2 linked regions of the Homo sapiens genome follow. The protein of the gene in region 2 interacts with the protein of the main gene of each other region in a pairwise test. Each region holds a gene or a part of one and is shown on either strand. Other genes may lie near its edges.

Region 1 (7,518 bases), on a different chromosome or scaffold from region 2:
TCCAGCAATGATGGCAGCAATGCCAGTAGCCACATCCAGGGTCCTGTTCTGGCAGCCGCAGCCACCCACCCATCAGGGGTCCTGTGGCATGTCCTAGATTCCTAAGCCTGGCTAGCCAGCCTTGCTGCCACTTACCTAAGCCACCCAGGGACCATCCTTTCAAGAAGTCCTTTTATATATATACATATACATATATATATGTATATGTATATATATTTTTTTATTATACTTTAAGTTCTAGGGTACATGTGCACAATGTGCATGTTTGTTACATGTGTATACATGTGCCATGTCGGTGTGCTGCACCTATTAACTCGTCATTTACATTAGGTATATGTCCTAATGCTATCCCTCCCCACTCCCGCCACCTGACAACAGGCCCCGGTGTGTGATGTTCCCCTTCCTGTGTCCAAGTGTTTTCATTGTTCAATTCCCAACAAACGGTGCTGGGAAACCTGGCTAGCCATATGTAGAAAGCTGAAACTGGATCCCTTCCTTACACCTTATACAAAAATTAATTCAAGATGGATTAAAAACTTAAATGTTAGACCTAAAACCATAAAAACCCTAGAAGAAAACCTAGGCAATACCATTCAGGACATAGGCATGGGCAAGGACTTCATGTCTAAAACACCAAAAGCAATGGCAACAAAAGCCAAAATTGACAAATGGGATCTAATTAAACTAAAGAGCTTCTGCAGAGCAAAAGAAACTACCATCAGAGTGAACAGGCAACTTACAGAATCCAAGAAGTCCTTTATCTGATAAAAATTACCCCCGACTCAGCTTCCACTGTTTTAACAAAGTATCTTGACCCTTAACAAATCTCAGAAATAGCTCTTTGCTCCCTGAAAAACCTATTTCCTTTATATTTTAAACAGTACCAACTTGGTTTAAAGTTTTCAGCTTGTCCTCTGATGCATTTGTTCACCTCATTGTACTAAAACACAAAGAAACTGTCTCGTATAAAAATCAGAAGGAAGTTTAGAAATCAGAAAGAAGTTTAGAAAAGTTTAGAAATCAGAAGGAAGTTTAGAAAAAAATTATGGAACACATGAAAAAAAAAACAAGAATAAACTAAAGGGCACTGCTGAATAGACAGACAACAGCAACAGTAAGGGGGCTCTGGTCCCCCTTACTAACTCTGCCAAGATGACAGTTGTTTGAATTCTCCAACCCTTCTTCTGCTCCTCTGTCAAAGGAGGATTTCGCATAGGGTTCGCAGGCTAGCGATCTAATAGGTAAAGCACCTGGCACGCAGCTGGAAGGCTATCTGGGGTCTGTCTGCTTCTGCTAGCATCAATACTCTGAGCTCAACTCCACCGGGGCTCCTAGGATAACCGGGACAGAAAGGACGGTGAGAAAAGAAAAATGAGTAACATCACACAAGTTGAATCATATGAGGTTGACGATATTCACATCTTCCATCCAAAAAACCGACAATTTCTTATGATTCAACCCAACATATCGCAGCGGTTGTTCGTGTCGCATGAGTCTCGGGGGGCACTCAAGAACTACGATCGTGCACTTGCTTTCTTAACAAAGAACAGCTGCCGCCCTCAGGAACTCCAGCAAACCTTTCTCCAGAAAGGTCAGTCGCCTTAGCGGGCTCCAGGAGCAACCTGTTGCAGAATGAAGCCTGGGGCGCCGGCTTCCCCGCCCTTTACCTCCAAACCACCTCCAGGCCAAGCCCCCTCCAGGCCTAGCTCCCTTCTGGGCGGAAGCCTCTCGCGAGCTGCGGGACACAAAAGAATGAGCGGCGGGGCGGGCGCGGGAAGCCAAGAGACTCCAGGAATTCGCAGCCGCGCAGGGGAGGGGGTTGCCGGAGTAACTTGGCTGCTCTGAGCGCGTCGGCGCCAGTTCCCCGCCGCGGCCCCTGTTGGGCACCGATCGGGGGCGATCTTGCCAGAGAGAAGGGGTTCTGGAGCTAGTTCCTCCCTCCGATCCGACTCCCTGCCCCTCCAGACACGGGCTTTCGGGGAAACTGATCCCGAGCCTCTGACTTTCTACAGCCGTGAAGCTCCTGGTCTGTCCACGCTCCTCTTTGTTGTCCGGTCGGCGTGTTCTGGCAGGGTGCGCCTTGAGCACCCCAGTTCTCCATCTAGCGATAGCCGCGGGTCCCCGCGCATGCAAGCAGAAGGGCCGTGGAGCGAGAGGCTGGGAAGGTGCTTCAAGCCAGGGGTGCATGCTTTCTCCCACGGACGCGGGGAGATGGCCTCGCTTTGTACCCCCATATCCCTACTCCCGCTGTGGTCGGCTGCACAGTGTTGGCCCATTTCCGCACTCAGCCAGGGAAGCTCAGCGCCTCACGTCCCCGGGGCCATCCCTAGAGTTTCCTTTACCGCAGACTCGTTCCCAAGACCCTGGCGAGTCTCACCTCGGTCACCGTTCTCCCCGAGAGCGAGTCCGAAGTCTCTGGGGCCCCGGTCCAGTTCGCACACTCACCTCCGACTCCCGCTCCGGAACCACGGCCGCCGGCTACCCCCACCCCCGCCCCCATCCCCAGTGGATGGAAAGAAGACCCAAGCGGGGCGTCGCGGGCCACCACTCAGACTAAAAAGTTTGGGTTGGACGGGCACCGGCACCACCACGCTCTCCCCGCAGTTCCTCTGGCCCCCAGCCGCTGTCCGGGCCCGCACCACCTGCTGAGGGGCCAGGGAGGCGGCGCAGATGGCTAGGGTAAGGGGGGCGCAGAGCGAACCCGTCCACTCCTCACTGTACACCCCCAGTACAGTGGAAGGAGTGCGCTCAGCCCCGCGCCTGGTCAGCAGATGCCTCTCTCGCTCCGGGATGAGGACCCAGCTACTCACCGTGCACCCGGCTCCCGCTCCTGCTCCCGCCCTAGTCACCGCTGCCGCCGCCCTTCCCTTAGCTCGCCAGACCCTGGCTCGTGAATTATTTATGACCCGGCTTCTGGGACCACCGCGACGGCTTTCGGAGAGCCCGCCTCCCACTGCCGGCCGCGGAGGGGCTCAGGCGGCGCTGCGGCCGGACCCTCGGACGTGGCGGGAGGCAGGAGAAAGGCCCGGGTGCCCGGGGGGACCCGTTGCGGCTTCCTCTGTCCCGGACGGGGACCTAGGTATGGGGCCGCCGTAATGGAAAGGATTCCTTAAACATACTCACCGCGGCGGGAGAGCTGAGAGCATGGCCAGGTGCCGCGTGGGGATCTGCCTCAGTCACTTAAAGATCGCGAAACCCGAGCCCTGGACGCACTCTGATTGGACCGGCTGAGCTGCTTCGCCACGTAGCCCTGGGGCGCCCACCAGCACCTGGACAGCATCCATTTCCTGTAGAGGTGCCTGCTCAACCCCCTGCACTCCCTTCTTGCAACGCTTGCGCCTCTTTTCCCCCCGCAGAGTCCCTTACTTAGAATGCAGCTACCCTCCTAAAAACTCTCCTGTCTCATCCCGGCCGCATTAGACCCTTCTGTTGCCTAATCCCAATGCAATTTAAAACAAAACAAAACAAAACAAAACAAAACAAAAAACAAAAAAACAATCATTTGGATCCTTAGTGTGCAGCAGTACCAATGCTAGTGGCTGAAGCGGTTGAAAAACAGCATAAAGCCATATTCGCTCCCATGTGTACACACAGGCATCTGCTATAACGTGAAGCCACTGCAACTTCTTTTCTCACTGCCTATTGGTCTTCCCGCTCTGTGAGTTACAACTCAACCTCGGAGTCTTCACCTTGCTACTTAGCTGAGTGGTGGAAACCTGTCAGAAGTAATCACTCGGTGTCTAAGTGTCCTCACCAATTTGCACTTCACTCTTATTCACCACTTCTTATCTTGAATTGAGAATACTGTACTCTCCGGCAGGCAAAAAAAAGACTTAGGGAAGAAATGCACCTTCAGGATGGTGTCTAGCATACAGCAGGTGTTTAATACATGTTTGTGATATGGATAGACAGATGAAAGGATGGATGCACAAGCTACAAATGAATGATAGACAGGAACATTAAGTCAGTACCTTTTTCTTTTTACCCCAGAATCTAACATAAAACAGGTACTGGAAAATAAGCATTTTTTGTTTTTAATAGTTAGATTGATCTTGAGTGTGTATATTTCTAGACAAGAAATGTTAGTTCAGAAAACTTCCAAAAAGTACAGTAGGACATGGCAAGGTTAGATGGTTTGGCTCTGTGTCCCCATCCAAATCTCATATTGAATTATAATTCACTGGGAGAGGGACCTAGTGGGAGGTGATTGGATTATGAGGGCGGATTTCTCCCTTGCTGTTCTCATGATAGTGAGTGAGTTCTCAGGATATCTGATGATTTAAAAGTGTGTGGCACTTCCCCTTTGCTCGCTCTGTCTCTCCTTCTGCCATGTGAAGATGTGCTTGCTTTCCCTTCTTCCACCATAATTGTAAGTTTCCTGAAGCCTCTCTGGCCATGCCTACGGTACAGCCTCTGAAACCCAGTCTCAGGTAGTTCTTTATAGCAATGTGAGATCAAACTAATATGGGTGGAAAACAAATCTCTTCTAATCAGGGCAGATTTCCCCTCTGCAGCCCCTGCAGGTCAGAAGTTTCTGGTTGAACATCTGCTGGGGTCCCATAAACCTTCTCCTAGATAGCACTTTTAGGCTGGAGCTAGCAAAAGAGGTGATTTCTCAAAGGAGTGGGTCCTGATCTCCGTCAAAGTTTGGTCCCGCCTCTTTTAATCGCTGTGACTTTGGCTGCTTAATATTTCTCTGAGCCTCAGTTTCCTGGTCTGCAAAATGAAGACAATTATAACTCACAGGGCTCATTTTCATTCCTAATAATATCAACAACAATAGTATCAGTAGAAAGGGGTGAAGCAAGATGGTCAAATAGAAGGTTTGACCACCCACCCCCCACCCCGGCTAGGAACACAATTTAACTGCTATCTACACACACAAAAAGCACCTTTATAAGAACCAAAAATCAGGTGAGTAACCACAATACCTGGTTTTAATTTCATATTACTGAAAGAGGCACTGAAGAAGCCAGGAAAGACAGTTTTGATTTGCCAATGCCGCCAGTCCTCCATCCCCCAGCAGCAGCAGCCTTGTGGCTTGGGAAAGGGAGAGTGCAGTGATTGGGAGACTTTGAATTGAACTCAGTACTGCTCTGTCATAGCAGAAAGCAAAACTAGGCTGAACTCAGCCAATTTCCCTCAGAGGAAATAGCCCATACCAGTGGTGAAAACTTGAGTTTCAGTAAAGTGCTCTGGGGCCCCAAATAACCTTAAAGGCAGCCTAGGCCACAAGGACAGCAACTCCTAAGCAAGCCCAAATGCTGAGCTCAGAGCCAGTAGACTTGGAGGGCATGCGACTTACTGAGACACCAGACAGGGGAGCTAAGGGAGTGCTTGTGACACCCCTACCCCAACCCCAGGTAGTGCTGTTAGTGGCTCTTCATCACTGCATGCCCTTTTCTAGCACTCATGCCTCTTTTACCCCAGCAGAGCTCTCTACTTGGAATGCAGCTACCCTCCTAAAAATGCTCCTCTCTCAAAAACTCTCAGCCACATTAGACCCTTCTGTTGCCTAATCCCAATGCAGTTAAAAAAACAAAACAAAAATAATCATTTGGATCCTTAGTGTCTGCATCAGTCCCAATGCTAGTGGCTGGAGTGATTAAAAACAGCACGAAGAGACCCATTCCTTCTGCTTGAAGAGAAGAGGGGGAAGAGTAAAGAGGACTTTGTTATCTTGAATATCAGTTTAGCCACAGTAGGACAGGGCATCAGTCTGAGTCATCAGACCCCCATCCCAGGTCCTAACTTGTGGATAACATTTCTAGACACATCCTGGGCCAGAAGGGAAACTGCTGCCTTGAAGGGAAAGAAACAGTCTGGGCAGGACCCATCACCTGTTGGCTAAAGAGCCCTTGGGTTCTCAATAGCCAGAAGCAATACTCAGGTAGTACACTGTGGTTCTTGGGTGTGACTCTGAGATCTGCTGGTTTCAGGTGAGACCCAGTATATTCCCAACTGTGGTGGCTAATGTGAGAGACTCCTTCTGCTTGACAAAAGCAGAAGGAAAAGTAAAGAGGATGTTTTCCTTCCCCTTAGGTACCAGCTCAGCCACAGGGAGGTAGAGTACTAAGCAGGCTCTTGGGGTGGTCTTCAATGCCCAGACACCAATGAATATCCAAAAGCTTCCAGACCACCCAGGAAAACATGACCTCACCAAACAAACTAAATAAGTCCCCAGGGAACAACCCTGGAGAAATAGAGATATGTGATGTTTCAGACAGAGAATTCAAAATCAATATCTTGAAGAAACTCAGAGAAAATTAAGATAACACAGAAAAAGAATTCAGAATTCTATCAGATAAATTTAATAGAGATATTGAAATAATTTTAAAGAATCAAGCAGAAATTCTCAAGTTTAAAAATGCAACTGACATACTGAAGAATGCATCAGAGTCTTTCAATAGCAGAATTGATTAAGGAGAAGAAATAGTGCACTTTTAAAGACAGGCTATTAGAAAATACAGTCAGAGAAGACAAAGAAAAAAGAATAAAAAATAATGAAGCATGCCTACAAGATCTAGAAAATTACCTAAAAAAGCAAATCTAAGAGTTACTGGCCTTAAAGACAAGGTCGAGAAAGAGATGGGGTAGAAAGATTATTCAAAGGGATAATATCAGAGAACCACTCAAACCTATAGAAAAGTATCAATATCCAAATACAAGAATTGTATAGAACACCTAGCAGATAAACCCAAAGATGACTACTCCAAGGCATGCAATAATCAAATTCCCAGAGGTCTAGGATAAAGGATCCTAAAAGCAGCAAAAGAAAAGAAAGAATTAACAAACAATGGAGCTGCAATACATCTGGCAGCAGACTATTCAGTGGAAACCTGACAGCCCAGGAGAGAGTGGCGTGACATACTTAAGCTGCTGGAGGGAAAAAACTTTTACCCTAGAATAATATATACAGCAAAAATATTCTTCAAACATGAAGGAGAAATAAAGACTTTCTCAGACAAACAAAAGCAGAGGGATTTCATCAACACCAGACCTGTCCTACAAGAAATGCTACAAGGAGTTATTCAATCTGAAAGAAAAGGATGTTAACAAGCAATAAGAAATCATCTGAAGATATAAAACTCCCTGGTAATCGTAAGTACACAGAAAAACACCGAATGTTATAACACTGTAACTGTGGTGTGTAAACTACTCTTATCTTAAGTAGAAAGACTAAATGATGAACCAATCAAAAATAATAACTACGACAACTTGTCAAGACATAGACAGCACAATAAAATATAAGGAGAAACAACAAAGAGTTTAGAAGCAAGGGGAGGAAGTTAAGGTGTAGAGCTCTTATTAGTTTTCTTTGTTTATGTAATCAGTGTTAAGTAATTACTAACATAAAATAGTGGGTTATAAGAAGATAGTATTTGCAAGGCTCACGAGAACTTCAAGTCAAAGAAACACAATGAATACACAAAAATAAAAAGCAAGCTATTAAATCATACCACCAGAGAAAATTACCTTTGCTAAAAGGCAGACAGGGAGAAATGAAAGAAGGAAGAG
Region 2 (3,910 bases):
GGACTACAAGGTGGGGACCGCCAGGTGAGGACCACATCGAGGACCACCAGGCGAGGACTATGAGGTGAGGACTGTGAAGTGAGGACCACCAGGTGAGGACTGTCAGGTGAGGACCGCCAGGTGAGGACTGTCAGGTGAGGACCGCCAGGTGAGGACTGCTGGCCACCAGTGGCAGCTGGAAGAGGTGAGGAAGGATTCCACCCAGAGTGTCGGAGGGCGAGTGGCCCAGCTGAAACCTTCATTTACAACGTCTGGCCTCTAAATTATGAGAACACATTTCTGTCGTTCTAAGCCACCCAGTTGTGGTGTACTTGGTTACAGCAGCCTAGGGAAACTCCCACAATCTAGGTAGAAGCTGAGGATCCGGACGCCATCTGTGTCTGCACACCTCTCAGAAAGGCTACGCTGCAAAGGAGAATCTGCTTCCAGAACTTCCACTTGCCTTCATCTAGACACCTCCAGAGGAAGGGAGATGCCTGTTCCAACCAGAGCCCTAATCATCAACTCAAACCCAGGAGGTGAGCAACTGACACACGTGCACCCAATACAGTCCCTGTGTTACAGGAAAGGGGTCCCAATCCAGACCCCAGGAGAGGGTTCTTGGACCTCGCACATGAAAGAATTCAGGGCAAGTCCGCAGTGCAAAGTGAAAACAACTTTATTAAGAAAGTCAAGGAATAGGCCCGGCACAGTGGCTCATGCCTGTAATTCCAGCACTTTGCGAGCCTGAGGCGGGTGGATTGCCTGAGGTCAGGAGTTCAAGACCAGCCTGGCTAACATGGTGAAATCCCGTCTCTACTAAAAATACAAAAAAATTAGCTAGGCATGGTGGCATACGCCTGTAGTCCCAGCTACTCAGGAGGCTGGGGCAGGAGAATCACTTGAACCTGGGAGTCGGAGGTTGCAGTGAGCCAAGATCATACCACTGCACTCCAGCCTGGGCGACAGAGTGAGACTCTGTCTCAAAAACAAAAAAAAAAAAAAAAGAAAGTTTACTTTGCCAAGGTTGAGGACATGCCCGTGACAAAGCATCAGGAGGTCCTAATGACATGTACCCAAGGTGGTCAGGGCACAGCTTGGTTTTATGCATTTTAGGGAGACATGAGACATTGATCAATATATGTAAGAAGTACATTGGTTCTGTTTGGAAAGGCGGGACACCTTGAAGCAAAGGCAGGAAGACTCAAAGCAGGAGGGAGCTTCCAGGTCACAGAGAGGTGAGACACAAAGGGTTGCATTCTTCTGAGTTTCTGATTAGCCTTTCCAAAGGAAGCAATCAGATATGCCTCTCTCTCAGTGAGCAGAGGCTTGACTGAGTAGAATGGGAGGCAGGTTGGCCCTAAGCAGTTTCCAGCTTGAGTTTTCCTTAGTGATTCTGGGGGCCCAAGATGTTTTCCTTTCACAAGCAGCAGATGAAAAGAAAGGGCAGCCTCTGAAGTCTCTCACCTCTCTGAAGGGAAAGCAATAGAGAAAAAAGTGTCAAATATCTTTCCTTGAGAGTCTGGCTGCACAAACTGTAAATGTTAAAATTAGGAAGTAAACTCTCCTTTACTCCACATGTTGTTCCCAAAACACATGAAGAAACATTGCCAGCCACAGCAGCAAATTGCTGAGTCACTGATAAAAATGTCAAAGTTCAACTGTTATGTTTCTTAACGATATACAGATGCTATTACTCAACATCTTAAAAATGATTTACAAGTTAACCCTTTAATGTCATCTAAGGTACGACTGACCCACTTCGATTCACTTCATAGTTGATTTAGGAGCAATGTTTTAAAAACTACTAAAATGTGAAGCTTTATAGCTAAAAATCACAACCAAAAATATTGAAATATTTACATAGGTCCCTTAACAAGTGTTGTAATTTATTTTGAAATAGAAACTACTTGTCAACTTTCAGTGACTAAAGAAGGCAAAGGCGGTGCATCCTATTTGATTATAAAGGTTGTACTCTGTAAGAACAACACAATTCCTTTCCACTGCACGCGGTCACTTCTGAAGAACCTCGTGGTTTGTCAGCTCATGCCAGTGCAAATGCAGTCACAGCCAATGACACATGTACTGGGTTCTAACAAATTCAGCTTTCAAGTTTCCACATTTAAAAGAATAACACATAAGGCAGAGAATAATAAATGGGAAGTAAGATGACTGAATCAGCCCCTTAGAGCCCCCAGGAGGAGACAGAGCCACACCAGAACTCTTCAGAGCTTGACACTAGCCGCTAAATTTCTTCAAAGATCAGATTCCAATGTCCCACAATCTCCTTACAAATTAGAAAACCAGCCTTTCCTTAGAAGAGTTTACAAACAATTCTACTCTCTGAATGAGGAATTCTTAAAACTTTAGAACCTATGAAGCTGTGAGTGCCTTTGCAATGATACGTGTAAGCTGAGAGAATGGACAGTTGCGATGCCCTCTCATGGTTCATGTGTTTTTAAGTTGCTGATGTTTTTCAATCAGTGAAGATAAGAAGTCTCTCTTATAGGCCCTGTAGGCTACTTTCTTTTTTTTTTGAGACAGAGTTTCACTCTTGTTGCCCAGCTGGAGTTCAACGGCGCGATCTCAGCTCACTACAACCTCTGCCTCCTGGGTTCAAGCAATTCTCCTGCCTCAGCCTCCCAAGTAGCCGGGATTACAGGCATGCGCCACTACGCCCTGCTAATTTTGTATTTTTAGTAGAGACAGGGTTTCACCATGTTGGTCAGGCTGGTCTTGAACTCCTGACCTCAAGTGATCCACCCACCTCAGCCTCCCAAAGTGCTGGGCTTACAGGTGTGAGCCACGATGCCCAGCCGCTACTTTCTTTTTAAGATCTATTTCAAGTAGGACAATTATTAGAAATCCTTAAACTATAATTTCTGGCCTTTCTTAATTTCCTTGAAAAAAAGAAACTATATCGGAAGCATACAATACATGGTTACTCAATGAGATGTGACGATGTGAAAGGAGACACTCAAACCTATTTCCCGCACCTCCAGTCATATGGCCTCTGTGGGTCTGGATGAGTAACACATTGAAGGAATCCTCTAAATAACCAGATTCTAAACATTAAAGACAATTATACACCAAACAGGCAAACACGGTGCATACTTTAAAAGCCAAATATATTTTTAAAAGATCATGCTTATAATAAGTAAATTACACATTAAGGAAACATCAAAATAAAGTAGATGAATAAAAAGGCACACTCGAAAAATTTGAGCGCAGAAAGGACAGTTCTTTTTGTTTTGTTTCTAATGTCGGAAGAAAAAGAAAGAGATATATTAAAATCATTGTTTTCAAGTGAAGGTTTCTGTCAGTTGAAGTAGTTAGCAATGGCTTCTTTTCTCCCGTGTCCAAAGCAGGCTCTTCCTGCGCTGACTTCTGAGGAGGTGTTCAGTCCTCTGCCATGTATAGGCGATACATCAAGGCGACGGCCACTGCAGAGATGGCAGGGATCACCCAGTTGGTCCACCAACTAGAAAGACACAAAAAGCAATGATGCTGACATGATGTGCACTGTGGTGGACTCAAAATCTTTGCTCCTTCTAACAGAAAATTACCAGGGCATGTTTTTCTTAACTCTGTAATGAATTTTGCTGAAAAGGCAACGTGGATTTGCTAAAAGTGACATGAGTGTAACACATGCCCTGCTATACTAGGAATCACTCTGCCCTGCTGGCTTTATGAGAAAACTCATGCCCCACTTGGCTGGGCTCAGTGGCTCACGCCTGTAATCCCAGCACTTTGGGAGGCCAAGGCAGACGGATCACTTGAGGTCAGAAGTTTGAGACCAGCCTGGCCAACATAGTAAAAACCTTCTACCAAAAAATACAAAAAGTAGCTGGGCGTGGTGGCAGTAGCTAATTGTAATCCCAGCTACTTGGGAGGCTGGGGCAGGAGAATCGCTTGAACCTGGGAGGCAGAG

The links.
Region 1: the proteins of CYB5A (region 2) and PROM1 interact in a protein complementation assay, tested with the Homo sapiens proteins (one study listed by IntAct).

The regions. Positions count from the first base shown.
Region 1 is NC_000004.12:16,080,855-16,088,372, forward strand, and holds the start of PROM1 (prominin-1 isoform 1 precursor), read right to left. Parts: upstream 3,170-7,518; 5' UTR 3,124-3,169; intron 2,876-3,123; exon of another isoform or gene 1,251-2,875; intron 1-1,250. UniProt on the Homo sapiens protein: May play a role in cell differentiation, proliferation and apoptosis. Binds cholesterol in cholesterol-containing plasma membrane microdomains and may play a role in the organization of the apical plasma membrane in epithelial cells.
Region 2 is NC_000018.10:74,250,206-74,254,115, forward strand, and holds the end of CYB5A (cytochrome b5), read right to left. Parts: intron 3,461-3,910; coding exon 3,379-3,460; 3' UTR 641-3,378; downstream 1-640.